2 separate regions of the Homo sapiens genome follow, and region 2 is linked to region 1. Evidence: fine-mapped QTL for protein levels in blood plasma. Region 1 holds a variant in brackets. A gene starts in the other region. All regions are shown on their forward strands.

Region 1 (2,500 bases):
TTTTTTTTTTCAGACAGACTCTTGCTCTGTCGCCAGGCTGGAGTGTAGTGGTGCAATCTCAGCTCACTGCAACCTCCACCTCCCGGATTCGAGTGATTCTCCTGCCTCAGCCTCTTGAGTAGCTGGGACTACAGGCATGCGCCACCATGCCCGGCTAATTTTTATTTTTAGTAGAGACAGGGTTTCACCATATGGCCAGGATTGTCTCCATCTCTTGACCTCATGATCCACCTGCCTCGGTCTCCCAAAGTGCTGGGATTACAGCCGTGAGCCACTGCGCCCCGCCAAGTAATTTCTTATTGAATAGGTTTCCACAGAAAACACCTTTTGTCCCTTAGTACTGACTGACTTTCTTAATCAGTAACCAAAAGCCAATCCTTCAAGTAAGCTTCCTTTTTAGCAAAAAAGCCTATATTTCATCTGAGCACCCAGCTTTATAAATCCACCATTCTCAGTATTGCTACAGTATTAATTGCCTTGGAGATGCATCCATGGGCTACTTAGACATTTGCCCAGCCTACTCAAAGAATTCCCCCTACCTTTGAGGAGCCCCTAGCTGCATGCATGTCTTTGAACAACACTGCCCTCCACAGTAACAGATAAGACAGAAAAGACAAGTGACACTTACTCTGGTTCCAAGGGACTTTGTCCGTGAAGTCTTTGTTTCTGGGGCTTTCTGGGTTTTTATGAATTCAAGTTTCAAGATCCTGACCAAGTAGGAAGTACTCAGCTTCCTGTGTGATGATGGAGAATTGGCTCCAGTTTCACAGTCTTTCAAAATGACAAGAAAGGGACAAAGTTCTTCTTTTTGTGTGGTTTGGTGCTCATGAATGGCCACAACGCCCACCAGTGGCCACTTCCTGGAAGCCAAGTTAACTGCGAGGATTTTCTCTGCTCACTCTGAGCCTCTTGAGTCTTGGCCCTGGGAGCTCAGCCTTAAGGGAATTGGGGGCAGGTGAAGCTGAGTTGGGTGAGGTGGGTGGCAGTGAGATGTTCCCAGAATGTTTGGAGCAATTGAAGTGTGGGATGTGTGTATGTGGGATGGGGGCAGGGCATAGAGCTCTTGTGGTCAGCGGCAGACTTCTTTTTTTTCTTCTTCTTAAAGATTGTGAATGGAAGGATTTAAACTGGAACCCTGAGTCCTGTTCCTCAAAACTAACTGACATGGGTGCTCACAGAGGCAGCAGCTTCTCTTTGGCACCCTATGCCCCTCGGCTTCTGGGAGCTCATTGTCCCTCTGCTCTCTGCTCCCCAAGTCCCTCCCCACCAAACCTCAGAGAGTGGCTTTGCCCCAGGAACCTCCAGCATGAAGGGAATATAGGTCTGTTGGTTACATTTTGACCTTCCCTTTCTGATGCCCCATTCCTGTTTTACGTGATGGTCAAACATGGGCCAAGTTCAAATCCCAGCTCTCCACCTGTGACATGGGCAGATCACTCACCTTTCTAAGTCTTGGTTCCTACTCTGCTAAATGGGAGTATTGAATGCTTACCTCAGAGGAGAAGCA[C/T]GAAGTCAACTTGTACATGAAAAATGTCAGAGTGCCTGGCACAGTGAAAAATGTCTGACAAATGATGAGTACTGTGACTCTCCTCACAACTGCCAACACCTACTCTGCCTCTGCCCTTGTGTCTTCTATAAAGTGGGGACACCCCTAACCTTCCTCACGGCATTGCTACAAAGCACTGTTTCAGAAATCATCAGTGTGAATGTGCTTTGAAAAGATCACTTGTCTCTTCATGGTTCAGTTTTCTTATCTGTAAAATGAAGAATTCAGACAAGATGGCCTAAGCTTGACATCTGATCATCACTCAGCTTCACCCCAAAGAAATAAATGGGGGTCTGCATGTGCCTGGCTATTTGCAGTACTTTGCTGGTGGATCAGTTTCCAAAGAGAACAGAGGCTTGTGAGGCCTGCCTTTTCCTTGATCCTGTCTAAAGTAAGGGACATGGTCAGTACCTCATCCTTGACCAGGCTTCCAGCTCTGCTCTAGGTTTCATTCCACAGAGGGGATGTACCAGGCAAATCTGCTTGTTCATTGAACAAATATTTATTCAGTACTCACAATGTGCCGGACATTGTGTTAGGTGCTTGGGATATAGTGGTGAAGAAAGAGGCTGGATCCATTCTTTGAGAGCTTATAGCTTAGGAAGGATCACAAACAATTAACCAAGTTACCACAATGAGGAACAGCTTTTGTAGTGGCCTGGGAAATACCCTGGGCTAAGGAAGGGTGCATCGAGGGTGGGAAGGGGTGAGGAAGTCCTTTAGAGCAGTGGTTCTCAAAGTGAGGTCCCTGGACCAGCAGCATTCACATTCCCTGGGACATTGCTAGCCATGCAAGTTCTGGGGTTACATGCCAGATATACTGACTCAGAAATCCTGGGGATGCGGCCAAGCAATCCAGGTTTTGACAAAGACTGGCATGATTCTGATGCATGCTTAAATTTGGGGGGCATGGATCTAGATTTTCTCAATGCTTTTGGCTCAGAGTCCCATGTG
Region 2 (2,500 bases), not on the chromosome of region 1:
CACACGACAATTCCCTAAAGTACACATGATTAGTATCCTGCTCTTACCCTAGCAGAGAGTGGTTAAGTAAGTTGTCCATGGTATCACAGCTAGTCAGTCACAGAGCCATCATCCAAATGCAGATATCCTGAATTCAGGTTCTACATTAGACTAACCCACCAGGAATGGAGCAGGAAAGAACAGGGAAGACTCCACATTTTTGGCCTCTATTTGGTAATTATAGTTAACTTTTTAGGTAATTATAGACCAATTATCCTAGATGGGCACTTAGAGACTTTGCAGGACAGCAAGAGCTGTCTCTAATCCTGTGCCCATGACAGACATCACCAGTCAACCACAACACAGTATTTAACTAACGCAAGTCAACTCCTCAGAATCTTTAACATTCTTGTTTGTGCTACTGTACCAATCAATCAATTTGATATGAGAGTGTGCAGGAAAAAACAGGAAACAGGTTTGCAGTACCTCCACACCAGTATTCAATGCTGTAATCCGCTGCAGTGACTCCATTAAAGACTTTGCCTCCCTTATACCCTCTCCAACTAGGGTGCCTAGTGTTATGAACAAAGGGATATGTATAGGTTCTTGTGTTGCCTCTCTCTTTGATATTTTTAGCCATCAGATACCTTGTCTGCAATGTGTGCTCAGAGAGTGAGGGGGGAACTAGATGATTGATTTTCCAAATGTGTTCCCTAAATGTGTTCCCTGGGGAATAAGGGCACGAGAGGCTGCCTATTCTATTTCAAACAAATCCCCTTCACTACAGTGTATTTGATGAGTTGGGGTTTGTTTTAATTCCATTTGGAAAAGGGCTTTAGCAGCTAAGCAAATGGTTTTAAAGTGCCTCAGAAGTCAAGATTAATAGAAACTATCCAGTTCTGATGTCCTATCATGCTAAAATTTCAGGGACTAAGATTCTGTGATCATTACATTGAAACACAGCAGCAAAGCTGTGGTGTGTTGTCCTTCCTGGTTCAGAGATGCAACTATGTGCAGGGCTGCTGAGCTCTCTCTGCATCTGGGTGGGAGCCTAATGGAAGTTTTGGGGCTCCTTCCTGGTCTCCAAAATCCTCAAGACCACCATGTGAACACAGGAATCAAGGAAGGTTCTTAGATCGACTCATCCCCCAGGCCTTTGGTTTCCTTGCTCCTTTCCCCAACTACAGGTGTTTCATTTCAACTCATCCCCTAGGGCCTTGGTTTTCTTGCTCTCTTCCCCCACTACAGATGTTTAACTTCATTTCATAACCACATATTCCCCTCCTTTTCCAAGGCAAGATCCAGATGGATTAAAAAATGTACCAAGTCCCTCCTACTAGCTTGCCTCTCTTCTGTTCTGCTTGACTTCCTAGGATCTGGAATCTGGTCAGCAATCAGGAATCCCTTCATCGTGACCCCCGCATGGGCAAAGGCTTCCCTGGAATCTCCCACACTGTCTGCTCCCTATAAAAGGCAGGCAGATGGGCCAGAGGAGCAGAGAGGCTGAGACCAACCCAGAAACCACCACCTCTCACGCCAAAGCTCACACCTTCAGCCTCCAACATGAAGGTCTCCGCAGCACTTCTGTGGCTGCTGCTCATAGCAGCTGCCTTCAGCCCCCAGGGGCTCGCTGGGCCAGGTAAGCCCCCCAACTCCTTACAGGAAAGGTAAGGTAACCACCTCCAGAGCTACTAGGTCAGCAAGAATCTTTACAGACTCACTGCAAATTCTCCATTTGAAAAATAGGGAAACAGGTTTTGTGGGTGGACAAGAAATGCCTCAACCTCACATCCAGTCACTGGAAGAGCCAGAACTAGAAAGCTCCCGAGTCTTTTCCCCACATTCAAGAGGGTTGCTGGGTGCATCCATACCCAGCTATCCTTACAGTGTTTGGGAATGGGGAATGGCTCTGTCTTACTGTGGGCATGGTGGGCATTTTTGGCAGTGGGAGAGAAGGAAAATCTGTTGATTAGAAGCTCAGTATGTTAATTCGACTCCAGGACAGCTTTCAGAGACAGTGGCTAAGAGAAGAACGAGGTCCCAGGGGGATCTCTTGAGGTGACTTATTTTGACACTCTTTGGGAAAGTTATCTAGGAGATTTGTTCCATAACTCATTTTCCCATACTCTGGTGACAAATTTACTGAGTGTATCGGTCCCACTGAGCCAGTGCATAGCATGGTAACAAACAGTTCTAAATTATCAATGACTTAACAGAATTAACTAAATTAACAAAAGTTACTTTCTCACTTGTACTAAATATCTATAATGTATGGGCTCAGGCTTCTGCATTTTATACTCAGGATTCTAGACTGATGGAGAAGTTGCCCATGTGGGGGAACATTGATGGATACTGTGATAAAGCAGAAGAAAGCTCTCAGGAGTCTTGCATAGGCAATGCACTGTGGCTCAAAAATGACACCCATCACTTTGTCTCCTTCTTTATTGATCAAAACTAATTAATGCCTCCAACCAAACAAAAGTGGCCAAGAAATGCAAGTCTACCTTGTGTCTCAAAACAG

Direction of the effects. Positions count from the first base shown, and alleles are read on the strand shown. Strength reflects both the effect of a copy and how common the allele is.
For the plasma level of the protein whose gene starts at base 1,476 in region 2, C is the high allele of the variant in region 1 and T is the other (moderate association).

The links. A credible set is the group of variants that fine-mapping cannot tell apart. PIP is the chance, under the fine-mapping model, that this variant and not a neighbour inherited with it causes the effect. Protein levels are from antibody-based Olink assays in UK Biobank. Linkage for the fine-mapping came from a reference panel and not from the study's own genotypes, which makes the PIPs less certain.
Region 2: it holds the start of CCL11, and the variant in region 1 is the best candidate, but not a certain one, in a credible set for the plasma level of the CCL11 protein (UK Biobank, PIP 0.51).

What each region holds. Positions count from the first base shown.
Region 1 is chr3:46,207,654-46,210,153 of GRCh38, forward strand. It overlaps CCR1 (C-C motif chemokine receptor 1), which reads right to left and starts at 660. Exons shown (of 2, transcript NM_001295.3): 1 at 629-660. The variant C/T (reference allele first, on the strand shown) is at 1,508.
Region 2 is chr17:34,284,267-34,286,766 of GRCh38, forward strand. CCL11 (C-C motif chemokine ligand 11) reads left to right here and starts at 1,476. Exons shown (of 3, transcript NM_002986.3): 1 at 1,476-1,618. The coding sequence starts at 1,543.